Homo sapiens: one gene and its partners. The protein of the gene in region 5 interacts with the protein of the main gene of each other region in a biochemical or structural test. Each region holds a gene or a part of one and is shown on either strand. Other genes may lie near its edges. The genes, in order: BNIP3L, PML, MAPK14, KAT2B, NR4A1, TUBB4A and MAP3K1.

Region 1 (3,500 bases), on a different chromosome or scaffold from region 5:
AAACACAGAGCGCCTCTCCTCCTCCAAAGGAACGCAGTTCCTCACCAGCAACGGAACAAAGCTGGATGGAGAATGATTTTGACGAGCTGAGAGAAGAAGGCTTCAGACGATCAAATTAGAGTGAGCTACGGGAGGACATTCAAACCAAAGGCAAAGAAGTTGAAAACTGAAAAAAATTTAGAAGAATGTATAACTAGAATAACCAATACAGAGAAGTGCTTAAAGGAGCTGATGGAGCTGAAAACCAAGGCTCGAGAACTACGTGAAGAATGCAGAAGCCTCAGGAGCCGATGCGATCAACTGGAAGAAAGGGTATCAGCAATGGAAGATGAAATGAATGAAATGAAGCAAGAAGGGAAGTTTAGAGAAAAAAGAATAAAAAGAAATGAGCAAAGCCTCCAAGAAATATGGGACTATGTGAAAAGACCAAATCTACGTCTGATTGGTGTACCTGAAAGTGATGCGGAGAATGGAACCAAGTTGGAAAACACTCTGCAGGATATTATCCAGGAGAACTTCCCCAATCTAGCAAGGCAGGCCAACGTTCAGATTCAGGAAATACAGAGAACGCCACAAAGATACTCCTCGAGAAGAGCAACTCCAAGACACATAATTGTCAGATTCACCAAAGTTGAAATGAAGGAAAAAATGTTAAGGGCAGCCAGAGAGAAAGGTCGGGTTACCCTCAAAGGGAAGCCCATCAGACTAACAGCGGATCTCTTGGCAGAAACCCTACAAGCCAGAAGAGAGTGGGGGCCAATATTCAACATTCTTAAAGAAAAGAATTTTCAACCCAGAATTTCATATCCAGCCAAACTAAGCTTCATAAGTGAAGGAGAAATAAAATACTTTACAGACAAGCAAATGCTGACCGATTTTGTCACCACCAGGCCTGCCCTAAAAGAGCTCCTGAAGGAAGCGCTAAACATGGAAAGGAACAACCGGTACCAGCTGCTGCAAAATCATGCCAAAATGTAAAGACCATCGAGACTAGGAAGAAACTGCATCAACTAACGAGCAAAATCACCAGCTAACATCATAATGACAGGATCAAATTCACACATAACAATATTAACTTTAAATGTAAGTGGACTAAATTCTGCAATTAAAAGACACAGACTGGCAAATTGGATAAAGAGTCAAGACCCATCAGTGTGCTGTATTCAGGAAACCCATCTCACGTGCAGAGACACACATAGGCTCAAAATAAAAGGATGGAGGAAGATCTACCAAGCAAATGGAAAACAAAAAAAGGCAGGGGTTGCAATCCTAGTCTCTGATAAAACAGACTTTAAACCAACAAAGATCAAAAGAGACAAAGAAGGCCATTACATAATGGTAAAGGGATCAATTCAACAAGAGGAGCTAACTATCCTAAATATATATGCACCCAATACAGGAGCACCCAGATTCATAAAGCAAGTCCTGAGTGACCTACAAAGAGACTTAGACTCCCACACATTAATAATGGGAGACTTTAACACCCCACTGTCAATATTAGACAGATCAACAAGACAGAAAGTCAACAAGGATACCCAGGAATTGAACTCAGCTCTGCACCAAGCAGACCTAATAGACGTCTACAGAACTCTCCACCCCAAATCAACAGAATATACATTTTTTTCAGCACCACACCACACCTATTCCAAAATTGACCACATAGTTGGAAGTAAAGCTCTCCTCAGCAAATGTAAAAGAACAGAAATTATAACAAACTATCTCTCAGACCACAGTGCAATCAAACTAGAACTCAGGATTAAGAATCTCACTCAAAGCCGCTCAACTACATGGAAACTGAACAACCTGCTCCTGAATGACTACTGGGTACATAACGAAATGAAGGCAGAAATAAAGATGTTCTTTGAAACCAACGAGAACAAAGACACAACATACCAGAATCTCTGGGACGCATTCAAAGCAGTGTGTAGAGGGAAATTTATAGCACTAAATGCCCACAAGAGAAAGCAGGAAAGATCCAAAATTGACACCCTAGCATCACAATTAAAAGAACTAGAAAAGCAAGAGCAAACACATTCAAAAGCTAGCAGAAGGCAAGAAATAACTAAAATCAGAGCAGAACTGAAGGAAATAGAGACACAAAAAACCCTTCAAAAAATCAATGAATCCAGGAGCTGGTTTTTTGAAAGGATCAACAAAATTGATAGACCGCTAGCAAGACTAATAAAGAAAAAAAGAGAGAAGAATCAAATAGACAAAAAATGATACTACAAACACCTCTACGCAAATAAACTAGAAAATCTGGAAGAAATGGATACATTCCTCGACACATACACTCTCCCAAGACTAAACCAGGAAGAAGTTGAATCTCTGAATAGACCAATAACAGGAGCTGAAATTGTGGCAATAATCAATAGTTTACCAACCAAGAAGAGTCCAGGACCAGATGGATTCACAGCCGAATTCTACCAGAGGTACAAGGAGGAACTGGTACCATTCCTTCTGAAACTATTCCAATCAATAGAAAAAGAGGGAATCCTCTGTAACTCATTTTATGAGGCCAGCATCATTCTGATACCAAAGCCGGGCAGAGACACAACCAAAAAAGAGAATTTTAGACCAATATCCTTGATGAACATTGATGCAAAAATCCTCAATAAAATACTGGCAAACCGAATCCAGCAGCACATCAAAAAGCTTATCCACCATGATCAAGTGGGCTTCATCCCTGGGATGCAAGGCTGGTTCAATATACACAAATCAATAAATGTAATCCAGCATATAAACAGAGCCAAAGACAAAAACCACATGATTATCTCAATAGATGCAGAAAAAGCCTTTGACAAAATTCAACAACCCTTCATGCTAAAAACTCTCAATAAATTAGGTATTGATGGGACGTATTTCAAAATAATAAGAGCTATCTATGACAAACCCACAGCCAATATCATACTGAATGGGCAAAAACTGGAAGCATTCCCTTTGAAAACTGGCACAAGACAGGGATGCCCTCTCTCACCGCTCCTATTCAACATAGTGTTGGAAGTTCTGGCCAGGGCAATCAGGCAGGAGAAGGAAATAAAGGGTATTCAATTAGGAAAAGAGGAAGTCAAATTGTCCCTGTTTGCAGATGACATGATTGTTTATCTAGAAAACCCCATTTTCTCAGCCCAAAATCTCCTTAAGCTGATAAGCAACTTCAGCAAAGTCTCAGGATACAAAATCAATGTACAAAAATCACAAGCATTCCTATACACCAACAAGAGACAAACAGCCAAATCATGAGTGAACTCCCATTCACAATTGCTTCAAAGAGAATAAAATACCTAGGAATCCAACTTACAAGGGATGTGAAGGACCTCTTCAAGGAGAACTACAAACCACTGCTCAAGGAAATAAAAGAGGATACAAAGAAATGGAAGAACATTCCATGCTCATGGGTAGGAAGAATCAATATCGTGAAAATGGCCATACTGCCCAAGATAATTTACAGATTCAGTGCCATCCCCATCAAGCTACCAATGACTTTCTTCACAGAATTG
Region 2 (3,500 bases), on a different chromosome or scaffold from region 5:
CACCCTTGCACTCTCCTGTATTCTGAGTCCCTGGCCAATAGCACAGCCTTCCATGCCCCGACCCCCACCCCAAGCCTCTCCACTAGGCCTCTGCCAGGATCTAAGCCCATGAGCACAGGGACTGGCTATCCCAAGACCTGGCAGATGTGGCTGCTCAATAAACACTTGTTGAACCATCACCCTTGCGAACCCTTATTCCACGACCATCGCGTTCTCCGATGGATCCAGCTCCTCCCTGCAGGCTGTTCTCTCTTCCCTATGCTGGAACTCAGTTCTCCTCTGGGGATACCATGTCCCCTCTTCCTCCCACACTCATGGGCATCAGAGGTGGGAGGTAGGGTCAAGGCCCCCTGCTTCCTGGACTGTTCCAGCCCCTTCCTGGCCGTCTGGTAAGATCCTCTGTCCCTCTCAGGGTGGGCCCCATGCTCCCCAGCTCATCCCAGACACCCACCTGCCCACCCTCATTGAGGGCAGACGTGAGCATTCACCTCCCAGATTTCTTCTCCCTGCTCAGGTCCTGCCTTCCTCCTGAGTGACTTCTATTTCCACCCACCTGCCCGCCACTCCTTAACCTCTCAGGGGTTGTCACCCCATTCCCCCAGACAGCTGCCTGCCCCGTGGCCGTGCCCTGCACCTTGCCATCACCGAGCACTGTCGGTCCCTCAGCCGGTCCTCTCAGACTCTGACCGCAGCCTCCTGTTCCTTGAGCTCTCAGTCCTACCTTCGCCTCCCTCCAGCCCCGCGCACTCCCCATTTCATCCCATCTTTCATCAGAATTGCAGCTCCCTGCCCAGCAGAAAATCCTGGAAGGACTCAGGAGCTTGTCGCCTCTGTGCTGCCACCTGGAGACCGAGATCTGCAGGAGAAAGGCCTGGGAAAACTATGAGTGGTTGCCTGTGACTGCTAAGGGCTCCTTGGTGCTCCGCCCAGCATGTCCTTTTGCTCTGCAGGGCAGCCCCCGCCTGCCTTTCTTCACTGGGCCCTTGTCCCAGCCTCACCCTCAGCTGATGGCGGCACCTTCTGCTCCAGGGAGAAAACAGGAGCTCTCCAATGGCATAGGGACAGTTGACATCTTGCTATTTACAGATCCCCATCGCACCCCTTCCCTGCCCTCGTTAGGGTGGAAGGGATGTCCACCTGCCTCCAGGACTCACCCTGTGTCCTGGCCCCAGCCCTTGACCCCCTGGGAGCCTCACTCCTCCTCCTCATCTCTCTTGCATCTTCTAATGTATCCACTGCCTTCTGAACTAAACACCCTGAATGAGGTCTTTCTCATCTCAGAAAACTCCACCCACTTCTCTCTCCAGCTGTCGGCTCCCCTTCCTCTGCTCTCCTTGTTTACACTTCAGCCCCCTCCTTGCCCCTTCTTCACCCCACCTCCTGCGCTTCCCCGCCAGTACCAGGGTGGCCTCTGTGCCTCTAGGTGCAGTGTCGCGTTTAGTCGTTATTATTCTTGACCGGCGCTGGGCCCGGTCTTTCCTGGAAAGATCGCCTGCTCGGATGCAGCTCTGGGCACTCCTCCCTCTCCTCTGCAGGCTCTGTTTTTTCTTGGTTGTGGTGCTCCTGCAGGTTTGCTGCTGGGCCCTTTCCTCTTTTCAGTCTGTGTATTCTCCCAGGTGCTCTCAGCCACGCCCCTGACTTCAGTTACTGCCCAGGGGTAGCTGATACCCAACACTCGCACCTGCCTGCCAGACCAGCATGGCCAGTGACCTTCCAACAGCTCCGCATGGATGCCCATAGGTACCTCAAACTCAGCACCTTCTCCTCCCGTCTCACTGGCTCGCCCCACTCTCTGCCCGGTTGCACAAGCCAAGACCCCATAGCCACCCAGGGCACCCCCCTTTTGATTATTCCTCACATCCAACCAGTTATTGAGTCTTGTCTTTCTAGGGTGTAAATTCCTCTGAAATCTGGGCACTTCTTTCCATCCCATAATCTTGGTAAAATTAAAGCTACCACTGACCCTGGGTAGAGGCAGAAGCCTGGGAAGGAAAGGTGGAGAACAGGTTTGGAGTGCCAACAGTGTCCCCAGATGTCATGGAGAATCAAGTAGAGGGACCCCAGCAATATTGGGGGTGGGGCGGGGAGTATGTAATGCTCAGCTATCAGCAAGGAGTCATTAGGGGCTATACAGTGAATTAAGGGAGGGGGTAAAAGCACATTTCAGGTGATGATGAATTAAATACCTAGGAGCTCACATTAGAGAGCAGGCCTAGAGACGTGGGGAGAGAGCCAGAGGACCGCTGCTTTTGTGTATGTAGCTTTAAGACACAGGTTTTAAAAATTGTTATAGGAGTCCCAAACTTTAGAAAATATATATTTTAAAACCCCAACAAATTAGGTCCCCCCTATGCATTTCTCACCCAACTTCTGGGCCCTTTCCAGACCCCTGGTGCCCCCAGAGTACACCCAGCACCACCACTGCAAATTCCTACTCCCCAGCTTGGAGGGGGTGGGGTGATATTCCCAAGGTGATCCCGGCTCCCACCTAACCCATCCTCCCCAGCTCTGCAGCTTATATCCAGCTTTGCAGTGAGGAAAGTTGCAGAATACTGGTCTGCTACATTACTACTTTCCAAGTGTATCAGGGCATTTAGGAACCCCTCCCTTGAGCTTCACCTGTGTCCTAGGGATTCAGTGAGAGACTGTTTGTGCAAGAAGGAGCGAGAGGCAGCAGGGCATAGTCATGGGGTGGAGCAGTGAGTCCCCCAGGCCTGGTTGTGGAGTACCTGGGGTGAGGACTTTGCTTAAAAACTGCCAGAGTGGGTCAGCAGTGCGCCTGCCCTGGGGCCCCTGCTTTAGGATCCAAAGTGGAAAAGATAGGTGTTTTCACCCACTCTTGTGACAGATTACTGGCTCCGGTGCCTTGGTGGCAGCAGCAACAGGAGGGGGCCAAGGTGAGGGGGCAGCCTGTGGCAGAAGTGGCAGTGGTGACGGCGGAGGAAGGGAGGCCTGTGGGGAATGGCTGATCCAGGGGAGGGGCCGTGGCACTGGTGAGTGTGCATCTGAGAAAATGAAACGGAGGTGCTGGCCAAGAGGCTGGAGCTAGGCAGAAGGGCAGCAGAGGCCACAGGCTGGCCGAGTTTATGGTCCAGTTCACTCATAACATGTGCAGTATTCCTGGGGTCTTTGAGGCTTTGCAAGAGCTGGGGTTTTGTGTCTGCAGAAAGATAGCAATGCATGTGTCTTGCCAAACTGATCCCAGCTGTAGCTGATGCTTAAGTGCTCAGAAAGTTCTTCAGGAGCTTGAGGGCTCTTGATAAGCATGAATGTCAGATGTTCTGTATCTTCCAGAGGCTGGATGCTGACTATCAGAGTTTGGCTTGTGTTTGGCTGATGAGCAAACCTGGAATGAATCAGTGATAAGGACAATTGTTCTCAAGCTGGCTGTACACTGGGGAGTTTTCCCAACTACAGATTCCTAGGTCCTACGCCCTGAGATTCTAATCGAATCAGTCTTGGGTGCAGCCTGGGCCTCAGTTTTTTCTTAAAGCTATGAA
Region 3 (3,500 bases), on a different chromosome or scaffold from region 5:
TCTTCTGAAGATAAGAACTTTCTTAGGGGTTCTAGATTGTTATGTAACTTTTCACTAATTTCTAGGTATCTGGTGACCCATCTCATGGGGGCAGATCTGAACAACATTGTGAAATGTCAGAAGCTTACAGATGACCATGTTCAGTTCCTTATCTACCAAATTCTCCGAGGTCTAAAGGTACAGATAATACAAGTAATAATTTTTTAAAATGAATTCTCCCTTTCTCCCCTCCTTTTAGGGCTTAAACAAACAAGTAAACAACTTTTCTAATGGAAAATTCAAACACATAAAATCACAGGTAAAGGTCATATAGTACAGTAAACTGCCATGTTCACTCAGTGACAACAGTTACCGACATATGGCCAATCATGTTTCTTTTGTATTTCCCAAGCCCTGGATTATTTTAAAGCAAGTCTAGACATTATATAATACCATCCATAGATACTTCAGTTTGCATATCTGAAAGATAAGGACTCTTCATTCTTACATCTAAACAATAATTTATTGATGTAATCTAATATCTGGTCAGCGTAATGTTGAGATTTTCAAAAAATCCTCAAGAAAGACTAATTTATTTGTTGGAGGGGCAGATAAACAGTGTTTTAAAATTAAACCCATCTTTGATATTTAGCTGCTTTGAGTCCTTATTGAGCTCCAGAGTGCCAACCAGAAAATAGATTAAAAGCTCAACTGAGTGGAGTCAATGGCTGTGGAAATTATAGTAATGGTAAATGTACACAATACTGATAGTTACTTATGCTGATTTCTAATCTTACTATTAACACTAGCAGTTCTTACTGATTCATGAAAATGTGCAGCAAATATGTTATATAATATGACAATAGAAGGTTGGAGGTAACTTTGACTTTTTTCTCTTTTGCAGTATATACATTCAGCTGACATAATTCACAGGGTATGTATTGTGACTTTGATTACATTATTTTGGGGAAGTGGGGTGAGAGTGGAAGAATGGCATTTAGCCAAGATCCTAATCTAAACTTTAGCCATTGAAATGTTGATTGATTGCAACTTTACTGTAGGTTTAAGCTGATTAAAGAAAGAAGATGTGTAGTTTTTTTCTATGTAAGGCTAACTTGGACTGGATATTGACTGTAGGATGGAGATTGTCTTTTGATAGCTGGATGAAGTCTTTTATGTCTGGATCCTCATTATTACCTGTAGGGGGAGAATTGATCATGCATCATAAAGTTGATCCTGTCTTCCCTGTATTTGCTTCCTAGGACCTAAAACCTAGTAATCTAGCTGTGAATGAAGACTGTGAGCTGAAGGTAAAATGAAGAGACAGTATTCATTGTTTGCTTTACTTTGAGATTATATGTTTGACTAAGCAGGCAGACTTTCTTAGGGAGTAGCTTTGTGAGCCATGACTATCTGAAATTCGTATTATTTTTATTATCAGACTTTGAAATTTAAACCATTTCTGAGTAAGCTAAGTGACATTGAAAGTGGCATCACTTGTTTTTATTTTAACATAAAGTTAAATTATAAATTTGATATATTAGTCATAATAAAGGAGGATAATAGTCAAATATCAAGTAAGTAGGCCCAAAGAGGTGATAACTAGATTAAATACATTTCTAAGAGGAGAAATGGCAGAAACCCACTCACTCAAAATAATTCAAATAAAAAATAAGTGAATTAATTGTTTCTAAATAGCAAGCAGCTCTAGAACTTTTGTTCCATTTCATTTTTTTAACTTGAAAAAATGTCTGTACATTAGAATGCACCATTTCATTTGGCAAAATTATATATCCACTTAACTCACATTTATGATAAAGACCATTTCTTTTTTTTTCCTTTTTTTTGGGATGCAGTCTCACTCTGTTGCCCAGTCTAGAGTGCAGTGGTGTGATCTTGGCTCACTGCAACCTCTGCCTCCCGGGTTCAAGCGATTCTCCTGCCTCAGCCTCCCGAGTAGCTGGGACTACAGGTGCACGCCATCACACCCGGCTAATTTTTGTATTTTTAGTAGAGATGGGATTTCACCATGTTGGCTAGGATGGTGTCGATCTCCTGACCTCGTGATCCACCTGCCTCGGCCTCTCAAAGTGCTGGGATTGCAGGTGTGAGCCATTGCTCCCAGCCAAGAACATTTGGATTACTTTAAAAAGTTTATGGCCAGGCGTGGTGGCTCATGCCTGTAATCCCAGCACTTTGGGAGGCCAAGGCGGGTGGATTATGAGGTCAGGAGATAGAGACCATCTTGGCCAACACGGTGAAACCTCATCTCCACTAAAAATACAAAAATTTAGTTGGGCATGGTGGCGGGCACCTGGAGTCCCAGCTACTTGAGAGGCTGAGGCAGGAGAATGGCGTGAACCTGGGAGGCAGAGCTTGCAGTGCGCCGAGATAGTGCCACTGCACCCCAGCCTGGGCAACAGAGCAAGACTCCGTCTCAAAAAAAAAAAAAAAAAAAAAAAAGTTTATTGTGTCCCTTCCTAGTCAATCCCTACCCCTCCACCCCTAACTCTGGCTCCAGGCAACTATGGATCTGCTTCTAACACTATAGATTAGGTTTATCTTTTCTGGAGTTTCATGTAAATGGAATCATATAGTGTGTATTTTTGTGTGTCTGGCCTTTGCTTGGTGTAATGATTCGGTATTGTTGTGTGTGTCAGTGGTTTCTTCCTTTTTATTGGTAATAGTATTTTGTTTTATGAACATAACAGAATTTTTAAATCTATCCACCTGCTGATGGACATTTGCTTGAGTTTGAGGCTGTGTAAAGCAACTGTGAATGTTTATGTGCAAACCTTTGTATGGACGTAAGTTCTCATTGCACTTGATTAAATACCTGGGAGTGACATTTTTGTTTTGCTTTTTGTAATTTCATTTTAAGTTCTTGCTGTATATTTACCATACATTCTAAGTATGGACCAGGAAATCTCTTTATGAAAGTGCTATTTTGTTCTCCTTTTTAATAAGGCAACAGAGGTTTGTTTGTTGTTGTTGTTTTGTTTTTTTTTCCCTGCCTGTTTCTAAGTCTTAGCAGTTTGTCTGTTCCTCTTCTGCCCTTTAGATTCTGGATTTTGGACTGGCTCGGCACACAGATGATGAAATGACAGGCTACGTGGCCACTAGGTGGTACAGGGCTCCTGAGATCATGCTGAACTGGATGCATTACAACCAGACAGGTATTACTCGCCTTGGTTATTTAGGGCCTTATTTAATTCCATGTTGGATGCATTTGGGATTCTCAGAAATAGAGATGGTGGGAGTGGGAAGAAATGTCTTTTCTTCCCTCAGTGATCCTTTTAAAGCCTGCAAGTAAAAATATTTCACTTCCTCAGATGGGGAAGTGGGGTTTTATACACAGCTTTTAAACCTTGTGATTTAGCAATTGGGTTTTTATTTATTTAGATTTTGAATATATTCTCTGAGTACTTATACCTAAAGACAATTAGTCCATAATTTTAACCCCTCAATGTTACTTGGAAGAATCTACCATTCTACTAATAAGAAACTTGCCCCTTTTTAAA
Region 4 (3,229 bases), on a different chromosome or scaffold from region 5:
CAGAAGCTCCAGGATATTATGAAGTTATAAGGTTCCCCATGGGTAATACCATTAACATTTTCTAAGTATAGATTTAAAACTCTGGATGGCGGTGTGGGGGACAAATGGTTGCTGAGGTTGATTTGTACTCCTCTGCTTAGGGTAGGAAGTGTATGACGGGTGGTGGGATTCCATGCACCGTGGCGGGTCAGTGATGGCAGAGAAGTGGGTGGCTGTGTTCATTAGAGACATTCTGCAGCTGTCGTTTAGAGCCCACATGAGCTTAACGACACTAGACGCAGAAAATCCACGGTAACTGCAGACAGCACTAGATTTGAAAGCTGGCACTTTAGATATAACTTTGCTTATATTCTAACTCTTTGGTGCAAATAGAAAAACATCAGCTTATCCTCTTGATATGCTTTGCGTCTGTCGTAAATAGGTATTCCTTTGAATAATTATTCAGGATAATAATGAAAGAAGTTAGATTAAAGTACTTGACTGCTGTACTTTCAGAGGGAGAAATTCTACTTACCACAATTCTTGATTTTCCATGCCCTTGATGGGTACTGTTAATGTCACTGTATATACTCTTTATTTTACGCTTTGTCTCATATCCAAAATCAAACAAAAAAGGATGTCTTCAGAAATGTAGAATTGTGCAGTTTGGTGCTGTGCCCACACCACTCTAAAATTAATGATTAATTGAATCATTTGAGGTCGCTCAAATTAAACTAATTTGGCATTGTGTGGGTGACAACCAGTTGAAATGTTTTCTTTTTATCAGCTATGTGGCCATATTTTTGGAGAGAGCCAGAGTCTTCTGTCTCTTTTCTACCTGTAATCTATTCCAGGTGCTAAGAACTGTGAAAGTCCAGCTTGGGTAATGTAGTGAGACCCTGTCTCTACAAAAAGTAAAAAATTAGCCAGGTGCAGTGGCACACGCCTGAGGCCCCAGCTACTTGGGAGGCTGAGGTTGGAGGATCACTTGAGCCTGGGAGTTTGAGGCTGTAGTGAGCTGTGATTGCACCACTGCACTTCAGCCTGGGCACTGGAGGGAGACCGTATCTCAAAAAAAAAAAAAAAAAAAAAAAAATTGTGGAAGTGTTAAAAATGTGAAAAGGAAGAGTGAAAGGGACGCATTAGCTCCTTGAAAACTGAGTTATTTACAGGTGTTTTCTATAGCATTTAAATGTTTCACATGAATATTTTATATATTTGTAGTAATGATTTCAGTAGCCTACACCCTTTAAAGTGAACACACATCTATATGCTTTTCTTTCTCTCTTCTCTCTGACTTACCACTATTTATTTCAGTACAAGAAAATAAAGGGTATGGTTGACTCAGTCTAGAATTCTGAATGGAAGGCTGATTTGGGAATCAATATTGTCCACTATGTGCAAAATATGTTAAAACTCTTTGTGTCCATTTCCAACCATAAATTAACTGATTTTTGCATCCTCTTCCTCTGGACCATCTCAGCTTCTTTTGGGAAACCCCCATGGGAAGCTGTGTGACTTTGGGGCCCTTTCAGCCCCTGTGCACATGCACTCTGATGACGTGCAGCGATAGGTCTAGCAGATCTCGTCGATCATAGCCTACTTGCAGCCTGCTTTCTGAAAGTGTTTTGCTTGGTCCCACCCGTGAAGGTTGTGAACTTCTCCAGTTGGATACCACCTGTATGCATAGCTGAGTCTCACAAGGGGGGAAACTGACCTAATTGAGCAAGGCCAGTGATGGGCTGAAATGTGTGCTGGACAAAGTTAAAGCTATAAATGGTGTTCTTCAGTAGGGCAGTATTTTTTTTCTTGGTATTGTTCAGATGCTGAGTAAAATATTTAGTCTTGTCCCCAAGATTATCTTGTATTTGAAGACAAGATTGACAAATCAGTAATTTTACATTTTCCCACGATTTCCTTATTTGATTTTTCTAATAACATTACTTTTCTTTCCCCATATTCTGAAAAACTGTTTCTCTCATATGGATGGGATCTAACCTGTTTTACTTAGGGAGTCACACACTGGACATCAGCTGTATAGTCTGGCCCAAGCATGACTTCTTGTTACCCATGGATGGCTAGGCAGGGTTTTGCTGCTTACCCAGAATTCCCAAGTTAAGGGGAAAGGACATGAAAACTGAATAATTTAATGGTGTCTCTATATTTGGTACCACCAATATTTAGTCACCTTTTTTAACCCACCTCATTTTGTCAATTGAAAAAACTCTACGAAGGCCAGAGGAAGAAGAATGCTATCTATAGCTTTAGAATAGAAAGGAAGTATTCAGAATTGGTTATAGTTATTCAGAAAAGTCCAGACACCGCCATAATTCTTGCTTTGTTTCTGCTGCATTTTAGGCTCTCTCCATCTTTTCTTACCCATCTCCTAAAAAAGTTCGAAAAGCTTTTGGACAAACTTCTTTGTGTCGTGTCATCCTTTTACTCCCCCTCCCCCTTTTTGGGGGGTACATGTTTCTTCCTTTTAAAACATTATACATATTATATTGGGCAGCATATCTTAAGTGGTAGACATTTAGGTGGAAAAGTGAAAGGAATGTAAACATCTACTTTTACTTAGGGCCAATTTCATTGTTTTTTTCTTCTTTAAATGAGAGAACATTTTGATCTGTTCAGTCACACTTGGATGGGACATTTAGTGTGAGATTTGATGAGTCTTTGTGTTTCTTAGCGCTTTTAGATTTTTATCTCTCTCCAAACTGTTTTAGAGAAGAAAGAAAAGTTGAAAGTTGAATTTACAGATGTGATGACATACACTCTAACCAAGATAGGCTTTATTCAAGAGATAGGCAGAAGCAGCTTTTTTCCATTTCTTCTTTGATGCTTTTGTGGTGGATTTAGGATATTGATGCAAATGAATTCCTTCCCATTTGGGGATATTGTACGTACATTTACTTACCTTATTAAATGATGATCCCAATGTATTTGGTTATAGGTTTCTTTCCCCCTGGAAATTTTATAACATACTTATAATTTGGGATATTGGTAGTCAGAAGTGGGGTTTTTTTTTTCCCATTTGACTTATTTTTCCACACATAGTTAATACAATTATAGCTTTTAACAATAAAGCCAGACTTCAAGACAACCAGGGAACCATAAATAGACAAATGTTAGCGTCTATTCTAATCTGCATAGAATTCCTTAAATTAGTCCTGACAGTGAGGATTGAAGAAACCCTACTTTAGTTTTATCAGTTTAGATGGAGTACTGTTTTCACCTGTAAAATACTACA
Region 5 (2,781 bases):
CCTTCCTGGAGCTCTTCATCCTCCGCCTGGCGTACAGGTGAGAGCCACTGACTGTCTGCCCAGCCCCTTTCCCTGATACACCTGCCTGTGAACCACCCTGATCGCTCTTCGTGCCCATCTGCCTGCCAGGTCTAAGCCAGGCGAGGGCAAGCTCATCTTCTGCTCAGGCCTGGTGCTACACCGGCTGCAGTGTGCCCGTGGCTTCGGGGACTGGATTGACAGTATCCTGGCCTTCTCAAGGTCCCTGCACAGCTTGCTTGTCGATGTCCCTGCCTTCGCCTGCCTCTCTGCCCTTGTCCTCATCACCGGTGAGTGACCAGCACCACACCAGGTCCAAGGGAATGGGCGTCAGGGGGTTGACTGGTTCTCAGGAGGGCACTGTCCCAGGGAGTTTGGTGGGCCGGGATCTAGCACTTTCTGGGCCCCTGCACTGCCCCGGGCTCATGCCAGCAGTAAAGTAGGGACCATAGGAATTGCAGATGGGCTCAGCTGCATCCAGCTCTAAAGCGCAAGACAGCCTTTGGTCCCAGACTGTCAGGATCCAGACTGCAGGTGTCATGTATGTGGCCTAGGGTATTGGCTTGTTTTTAAAACCTTCCTGTCAATTATGCTGCATATAGAAAAGTACACAAATGGTAAATTTTCATAAACCGCACTTACCCAACCAGCGCCTTGGTCAAGAAAGAGCACATAACTGCCCCCCAGAACCCATTATTGTGCCCCCTTCCAGTCATTTGCCCTCCCCAAGGGTAACCACTACTTTTTATTTAAATATTTTAAAAATAAGATGGGAATCTCACTATGTTGCCCGAGCTGGTCTCGAACTCCTGGGCTCAAATGATCCTCCTGTCTCAGCCTCCTAAAGTGCTGGGATTACAGGTGTGAGCCACCACGCCTAGCCCTTCACTGTGACTTCTGACAGTGCAGATCAGATTGGTTGTGCCTGTTTTGGACTTTATGTAAATGTAGTTCTGCAGGATGGAATCTGGTGTTGAATGCAGAGGTTTTCAGATTTCTCTGTTTTTTAAAGGAAAGAATCCACCCTCGTTCATTTTTTCACTTAAATTGCACAGGGGACCCAACGATATAGAACACAATCAGAGGTACTCTGGGCTGAGGGAGTGCTGAGTTCTGAGGCTGGGTTTCTCAGAACAGTCTAGATTTTAAAAACCCAATGATCTAGCCAGAAAACGTAGGTTAGGATTTTATTTCCCGTTTGTGACCCTGGGCAAGTCATTAGCCTCCTGGGCCTCGGGTTCTCACTTGGAGTATGAGGATAATGAGGGTTACTGCTTCTCAGACTTGTGACGATGCTTACTAATGGCCAACATGTGAATGCGCTTTTGTGAAGTGCCAGCAGAGCATGAGGGGTGGTCAGGGGCAGCAGTTTTAGGGGCCTGGGGGAGGCTGGGGCTTTGGGGGCCTGGTTCTCAGATGTACAGCTAATCCTGTACCCTTCCCGCAGACCGGCATGGGCTGCAGGAGCCGCGGCGGGTGGAGGAGCTGCAGAACCGCATCGCCAGCTGCCTGAAGGAGCACGTGGCAGCTGTGGCGGGCGAGCCCCAGCCAGCCAGCTGCCTGTCACGTCTGTTGGGCAAACTGCCCGAGCTGCGGACCCTGTGCACCCAGGGCCTGCAGCGCATCTTCTACCTCAAGCTGGAGGACTTGGTGCCCCCTCCACCCATCATTGACAAGATCTTCATGGACACGCTGCCCTTCTGACCCCTGCCTGGGAACACGTGTGCACATGCGCACTCTCATATGCCACCCCATGTGCCTTTAGTCCACGGACCCCCAGAGCACCCCCAAGCCTGGGCTTGAGCTGCAGAATGACTCCACCTTCTCACCTGCTCCAGGAGGTTTGCAGGGAGCTCAAGCCCTTGGGGAGGGGGATGCCTTCATGGGGGTGACCCCACGATTTGTCTTATCCCCCCCAGCCTGGCCCCGGCCTTTATGTTTTTTGTAAGATAAACCGTTTTTAACACATAGCGCCGTGCTGTAAATAAGCCCAGTGCTGCTGTAAATACAGGAAGAAAGAGCTTGAGGTGGGAGCGGGGCTGGGAGGAAGGGATGGGCCCCGCCTTCCTGGGCAGCCTTTCCAGCCTCCTGCTGGCTCTCTCTTCCTACCCTCCTTCCACATGTACATAAACTGTCACTCTAGGAAGAAGACAAATGACAGATTCTGACATTTATATTTGTGTATTTTCCTGGATTTATAGTATGTGACTTTTCTGATTAATATATTTAATATATTGAATAAAAAATAGACATGTAGTTGGAACTGAGATTCAGTCTGTCTCTGATGCCCCCTCCCCACTCCCCCACCAGACACACCCCATCATTACATAAGAGATGGGCTGCTCAAGATGAAACTTGGATGTTACCAGCCTGAGCTGTCAGGCCTCAGTGTACTCATTTGTAAAAGGCGGATAATAATGACACCTGCTTCACGAGGTTGTTATGCAAAGCACTTAGACTAATTTCTAACACGTGGGAAGCCTGCATTAGCTGTGCCTGGCTAGCTGTGCCTGGCTCATTGCTGGGGTCTGCAGTGGCTGACTAGCCCAGGGGTCACTGCAGGGCCCTAGCAATAGACTTAGCCGCAGATCTCAGGGTTGTCATGTTTCCTAAACTGGACATATATTCTCTGATTCTTGATTTCCACATCCATAAAACAAGAATAGACCCAGCCTCACAGAGCTTTTACGGTCAGAGGAGTGTGTGTGTAATGCTTAGCATGGGCTGGGTTTAAGTAAGCCCAAATTGGTAGTAGCTGTTACA
Region 6 (2,746 bases), on a different chromosome or scaffold from region 5:
CCGCCTCCTGGGTTCACGCCATTCTCCTGCCTCAGCCTCCCGAGTAGCTAGGACTACAGGCGCCCGCCACCACTCCCGGCTAATTTTTTTTGTAATTTTAGTAGAGACGGGGTTTCACCGTGTTAGCCAGGATGGTCTCGATCTCCTGACCTCGTGATCCGCCCACCTCGGCCTCCCAAAGTGCTGGGATTACAGGTGTGAGCCACCGCACCCGGCTATTTGTTATTATTTTTGATAGTTACTAGTATTCAACTACTAGAGGCCCTCCAGGTGGTGGAGAGACAGAGTCAAGGGTTGGGGCTCCCCATAACTGCATGTGTGTCCCCTCCCCTTCCCTCTCTAGGCCAATCCGGAGCCGGCAACAACTGGGCAAAGGGGCACTACACGGAGGGCGCAGAGCTGGTGGACGCTGTCCTGGACGTAGTCCGGAAGGAGGCCGAGAGCTGCGACTGCCTTCAGGGCTTCCAGCTGACCCACTCGCTGGGGGGTGGCACGGGGTCCGGAATGGGCACGCTGCTCATCAGTAAGATCCGCGAGGAGTTCCCAGACCGCATCATGAACACCTTCAGCGTGGTGCCCTCGCCCAAAGTGTCAGACACGGTGGTGGAGCCCTACAACGCCACGCTGTCTGTGCACCAGCTGGTGGAGAATACGGATGAGACCTACTGCATCGACAACGAGGCACTCTACGACATCTGTTTCCGCACCCTCAAGCTGACCACCCCCACCTACGGGGACCTCAACCACCTGGTGTCGGCCACCATGAGCGGGGTCACCACCTGCCTGCGCTTCCCGGGCCAGCTGAACGCCGACCTGCGCAAGCTGGCCGTCAACATGGTTCCCTTTCCTCGCCTGCACTTCTTCATGCCCGGCTTCGCACCCCTGACCAGCCGGGGCAGCCAGCAGTACCGGGCCCTGACGGTGCCCGAGCTCACCCAGCAGATGTTCGATGCCAAGAACATGATGGCGGCGTGCGACCCGCGCCACGGCCGCTACCTGACCGTGGCCGCCGTGTTCCGGGGCCGCATGTCCATGAAGGAGGTGGACGAGCAGATGCTGAGCGTGCAGAGCAAGAACAGCAGCTACTTCGTGGAGTGGATCCCCAACAACGTGAAGACGGCCGTGTGCGACATCCCGCCCCGCGGCCTGAAGATGGCCGCGACCTTCATCGGCAACAGCACGGCCATCCAGGAGCTGTTCAAGCGCATCTCCGAGCAGTTCACGGCCATGTTCCGGCGCAAGGCCTTCTTGCACTGGTACACGGGCGAGGGCATGGACGAGATGGAGTTCACCGAGGCCGAGAGCAACATGAATGACCTGGTATCTGAGTACCAGCAGTACCAGGACGCCACGGCCGAGGAGGGCGAGTTCGAGGAGGAGGCGGAGGAGGAGGTGGCCTAGGCTGCTCCCATCGCTTCCCACCTGTCCCCTCGAGGCTTCTGACCTTTGATCCGCTAGGCCCCCCATCTCTGAACCCTAGAGCCCCGCTTTCCCTCCAAGGCTGACTCCCCGCTGACCCTAACAATACCTTTGGAGCTCGCTTTACCTCTGGCTACTTCATCTCCGACCCTGGCTCCCCTTTGAGCCCTAATTTATCTTTAACCCCCTTGAGCTCTTCCAACCTTGACATTCCCAGGAGGAGCCCCGCTTCACCCCTTCTGACTCTGGAAACCGCACCTTTAACTTTGCAGACCTTCCTTCACCCCTGACTTCTGCTTCACCTTTGACCTCTGCCCCCCATGAATCCCATTTTACCTCTAGACCTATAAGTTCTGGTTTATGTTTGACCCCTCCCTCTGAGCTGCACTTCACCGCTGACCTTGCCTCACCTTTAACCCCCCACCTGAGCCCCAGCTCCTACCTCTGACCCCAACTTCTCTTTGATCTCTGAATCCCCTCTGACTCCAACTTCTCTTTCACCCTCTATGAGTCCCATTTTACTTCTACACCTGCAAGTCCTGGTTTATATTGGACCCCTCCCTCCGAGCTGCAGTTCACCTTTGACCTTGCCTCACCTTTCACCCCCCACCCCCCACAGCGTCAGCTCCTACCTCTGACCCCAGCTTCTCTCTGATTCCCACAGGCCCCATGCATCCTCCCTGCCTCACTCCCCTCAGCCCCTGCCGACCTTAGCTTATCTGGGAGAGAAACAAGGCCTGGTGCCTGTGAGGAAGAGAGGTCACCCCTACCCTCCCTCCCCGCTTCCCTGCCTCACCCTCAATAAATAAATTAATTGTTGTCATGGATGTTTCTGCCGAATCCCTCTTTCCTCTCTTACAGCAAGTGCGGGCTTTTCTCTACAGGATGGAGGAGGGTACCGATGACATCTCATCTCTGGATGGGGGGCGTGCTGGGGAGGGATCAGACGGGCCAGGCTAGGCCACCCACTAACCCTGAGGTTTTGACTAAGCCATTTGCCTTCTCTCAGCCTCGGTCTTCCCACCTGTAAAATGGGATCGTATGTTTTCCCCCAGGATCCCCCCACAACTGTTATAGGAATGGGGTCCCAATCCAGACCCCAAGAGAGGGTTCTTGGATCTCAAGAAAGAATTCAGGGCAAGTCCATAAAGTAAAAGCACGTTTATTAAGAAAGTAAAGGGGTAGGGCACGGTGGCTCACACCTGTAATCCCAACATTGGGAGGCTGAGGCAGGTGGATCACCTGAGGCCAGGAGAGACCAGCCTGGTCAACATGGCGAAATCCCATCTCTACTAAAAATAAAAAAATTCGCAGGGCGTGGTGGTGG
Region 7 (3,500 bases), on a different chromosome or scaffold from region 5:
AGTTTGTCCCTCTTTTTCAGGGTGATAGCTGAAATCAGTGAAAGTGCCTGTAAGTGGCGCCCAAGGGTTTGGAATTTTTCCTTATATTACAGAATTTAGGGGCTTTTTCTTCCTATTTACTGTCTTTGAAGAAAAATTACAGTGTTACTCTCCATTGAACAGCCTATTGTGAGTTTGGTAGATATAATTACCCCATCCTATTTTTGTAACTTAAAAAACCAAACTATCAATTTGCTGGCCCCGTGAAAGAACAAGATATGCTGTACTTGTTAATGTTAGTTTTTGTTTAAAACTAAAGGTATTTCACAGGCTGCTTTTATATCCTCATATAGCCCTCAGATTTCACTTCCTTTTTAAAGCTATTAGGCTAAAAATATGATTTAGTGACCTTTTACTAAAGAGGAGGTATAAGAGCATTATTACCTAAAAATTACTCTTAAAATATTAAGTGGGTGACTTTATAAAAATAAAGGTAGTCACATAAGTTAGTCTTCCGTGAATTTGTAAGTTTTTAGTTAAGAATGGTGTCAGTTTCATTTTAAATCAGATAAGAAAATTAATGCATTCTTCAAAGATGAACCTTAATATAATTCTGGAAGAGAAATATAAGAGCTAGAATTGTTGCCAACTTTTATTTTCTTTTCATATCTGATTTTGGCAAGAGTGACTGGTTAACCAACATTCCTTAATATACGATTTCCAATGCACTAAAACTCCATTTTGTTAGATACGAAAAACAGGAAGTAGCCCTGTTCATTGATATTCATTTACAACTTCCATAGCACCTCGAGCATAATATGTTGCATATTTTAGAAATGGCCACTGACTTGTCAACTTGCAGATTTCAAAATGTGGGAAGAAAGGAGTGTTTTTTTGCTTTCAACAAGAGCAAAAAAAAAACCAGCTACAGCTTGCCTAGGCTGAGTCGGCTAATCAGTCCTTGACACTGGCTGTGTGCATCCCAAAGGAAGAAATGAGGGGGTGGCAAGGTAGTTAATGGGGAATGGATTACCATGAGGAAAAATATGGGGCATTCAGAAATGCTCTCAGGTAGAAAGCACCTCTTTTGCATTTTGTACTCCAGTCATCTTCTTGGGTTGAGGGCTGTCTGTTACACAGAAGGCGATGGGAAAATGTGTCATGGAAAAGTAGTAGTCTCTAGAGGCTGCTTAGGAACTGCGTGTATATTACACCTCTAATCTTGGAATTCTTTGCTTCTATCAAATATATCAAGTATAGACTTGGTTGTTTTCCTTAGTCCTTGCCTCTTTCTATATCCTAAGTTAAAAGCTAAAGCAACTTAAACATGTAAATGGTAGACTATTAATGTGAGGAAATGTGTAAGATTAGGAGTAACCCAAAGTTGTCTTTAAGAAATTATTTAAGAACATGTTTAATCATGAAAGAAATAATCAGGGCCGGAATTAGTAAATGGTTCATTGCAAAGCATGAGATTAGTCAGATACTCTTTTCAGTTTGCAAAAATATATTAGGATTTTATCTGTGGCTTAAAACATACTCATTGAGCATATAGATATGCCTAGATACCTTTTACATAATCAACTCTTTTGCCTTCTGTGTGTGTGTATGATATCTATTATATGTATTATATATATGTTTATATATAATCTCATTTGATCATCACTGCAGCCCCCTAAGATAGTGTAATTTCTGTTTTCTGTAGGTGCAAACTCATCTGAGATGGTAAAACCTCATGATTACACAACTAGAAGACAGCTAGGATTCAATCCCAAGTCAGACTGACTCCACAGTCCATTTCTTTCCACTACTCTGCTTCTTCCATTTTCTTTTTTCAAATTAATAATCAAATTAATTGATTATTTTTAAGGAGAAATTTGTTTTGCAGGCATTCTAATAGACCATGAGCTAGGTCTCTACCCTGTGCTAAGTTTGCCTGTTAATGTATATAATAGGTATGTTTCTGTAACCTGGCCTTGTATATGTAATACAAGTAAACTGTATTTGGATCACCCTATCATGTCAGCCAAAGAGGGTTAGTCATTAGTGTTGAATGTTTCTTAGATTTATTGATTTGTGCTGTATTAAATCATAAGTGAAAGGAGATAAGCTGAAATTAATATGGTTCATTCATGGTAATCACACAGGAAGAGAAACTTTTACTATTGCTAGACCCTACCCCTTTGTTATTGTTTTAGATTTCATCCATTCAACATTTATGAACTTCTGCAAGGTGGTGGTCTTGAGTGGTGGAGAAAAAGATCATGAGTGCACAAGCTGTTTCTGTCGGTAGGTTGTAGTATGAACATGTTTCACAATACCGTGTTAAGTGCTATAAGAGAGATGGGGATACAGAGGGGATACAACATATTAGTTTCAAACTATTTCTGCCTATTTTCTGATAAGAATATATACAACACTGCATGTTCAGGCATGTTTTTTTTTCTTCCAAGGGAAAATTAAAAAGGAGATACGGGGAGCAAGAAATTCAACATCTGCTACTGCTAGTTCTGAAATTCTGTCTTTATTATTAGTAACAGCAACTCTACTAGTTACGAAAACAACATGGAGAAATATAAAATATTCTTTAGGGCATAAGATGATCAAGAAGATAGCCTTGTCTTTATTTACTCTATGGCATGTCATTGGTGATTGAGTTATGTTTGGTATGGAAGGGAGTTCTGTATTGTTAGTGATTGAGTCCTTTGGAATACCAGGCTGGTTTGATGCAGATGTTAATTTGATCGAGATGTGGAGATGTTGTAGCATACTAAGGGGAATTGTTAAAACTCACCAAGTGTATAATTCTGCAAGTACACATCTGTCACCTGGGAATTACTAAGCCACCAGACCTCTTGAAGCCTGGAGAAAGTGCTTGGAGCCACATGGGACAGCCTACACAGTACTGTAGTTAGTACGTTAACTAAGTTCATCACTTGTAAGCATAATGATGGATAGACATGGAGTGAGAACAGGGTCAGTACTGGGGTGTAGGTGGAAGCTTTGCTCTTGACAGATGTTATCATTACTTTTCTTTTTTTATTTTTAAATTAGAAATGGGTTCTCACTATGTTGCCCAGGCTGGAATCGAACTCCTGGGCTCAGGTGATCTTTCCACATAGCTGGAACTATGGGTGCAAGCCACTGTGTCTGGCTTTACTTTTCTTCATTGCCTAAACAATAATTTAAGTTATATGTTAACACATAATCTTCAAACTGGTCTTATGGTATTCTGAATACTAAACATCAGTTGTTAACAGACCAGGAACTTTATCTGATTCTTTGCACCATCTCCCAGCATCTAGACTAGTGTCTGGCACCCATGAATATTAGGTACCCAGAAATGTTAACATGAATTAATTTTCCAAAAGTGGTTAAATTAGTATATCTGAAGATTAACTTACTGTAGTGAGATTTTAATCATGATCTAGCTTAAGACGAGTTTTGAAGGCAAGAACTGTCTTTTTTTAGGAGTTTTTGTATATCGTTTGGTATTTATTTATTTATTTTTGAGACGGAGT

What was found.
Region 1: the proteins of NR4A1 (region 5) and BNIP3L form a complex in vitro, tested with the Homo sapiens proteins (one study listed by IntAct).
Region 2: the proteins of NR4A1 (region 5) and PML form a complex in vitro, tested with the Homo sapiens proteins (one study listed by BioGRID).
Region 3: the proteins of NR4A1 (region 5) and MAPK14 form a complex in vitro, tested with the Homo sapiens proteins (one study listed by IntAct).
Region 4: the proteins of NR4A1 (region 5) and KAT2B form a complex in vitro, tested with the Homo sapiens proteins (one study listed by BioGRID).
Region 6: the proteins of NR4A1 (region 5) and TUBB4A form a complex in vitro, tested with the Homo sapiens proteins (one study listed by BioGRID).
Region 7: of the proteins of NR4A1 (region 5) and MAP3K1, one has a biochemical effect on the other in vitro, tested with the Homo sapiens proteins (one study listed by BioGRID).

Annotation. Positions count from the first base shown.
Region 1 is NC_000008.11:26,396,554-26,400,053, forward strand, and holds part of BNIP3L (BCL2/adenovirus E1B 19 kDa protein-interacting protein 3-like), read left to right. Parts: intron 1-3,500.
Region 2 is NC_000015.10:74,036,216-74,039,715, forward strand, and holds part of PML (protein PML), read left to right. Parts: exon of another isoform or gene 1-179; intron 180-3,500.
Region 3 is NC_000006.12:36,072,808-36,076,307, forward strand, and holds part of MAPK14 (mitogen-activated protein kinase 14), read left to right. Parts: intron 1-65; coding exon 66-177; intron 178-883; coding exon 884-913; intron 914-1,241; coding exon 1,242-1,289; intron 1,290-3,040; coding exon 3,041-3,155; intron 3,156-3,500. UniProt on the Homo sapiens protein: Serine/threonine kinase which acts as an essential component of the MAP kinase signal transduction pathway.
Region 4 is NC_000003.12:20,148,446-20,151,674, forward strand, and holds part of KAT2B (histone acetyltransferase KAT2B), read left to right. Parts: coding exon 1-42; intron 43-3,229. UniProt on the Homo sapiens protein: Functions as a histone acetyltransferase (HAT) to promote transcriptional activation. Has significant histone acetyltransferase activity with core histones (H3 and H4), and also with nucleosome core particles.
Region 5 is NC_000012.12:52,057,223-52,060,003, forward strand, and holds the end of NR4A1 (nuclear receptor subfamily 4immunitygroup A member 1), read left to right. Parts: coding exon 1-37; intron 38-129; coding exon 130-308; intron 309-1,465; coding exon 1,466-1,722; 3' UTR 1,723-2,281; downstream 2,282-2,781. UniProt on the Homo sapiens protein: Orphan nuclear receptor. Binds the NGFI-B response element (NBRE) 5'-AAAGGTCA-3'. Binds 9-cis-retinoic acid outside of its ligand-binding (NR LBD) domain.
Region 6 is NC_000019.10:6,493,819-6,496,564, reverse strand, and holds the end of TUBB4A (tubulin beta-4A chain), read left to right. Parts: intron 1-343; coding exon 344-1,401; 3' UTR 1,402-2,246; downstream 2,247-2,746. UniProt on the Homo sapiens protein: Tubulin is the major constituent of microtubules, a cylinder consisting of laterally associated linear protofilaments composed of alpha- and beta-tubulin heterodimers.
Region 7 is NC_000005.10:56,818,549-56,822,048, forward strand, and holds part of MAP3K1 (mitogen-activated protein kinase kinase kinase 1), read left to right. Parts: intron 1-1,684; exon of another isoform or gene 1,685-2,197; coding exon of another isoform or gene 2,198-2,268; intron 2,269-3,500. UniProt on the Homo sapiens protein: Component of a protein kinase signal transduction cascade. Activates the ERK and JNK kinase pathways by phosphorylation of MAP2K1 and MAP2K4. May phosphorylate the MAPK8/JNK1 kinase.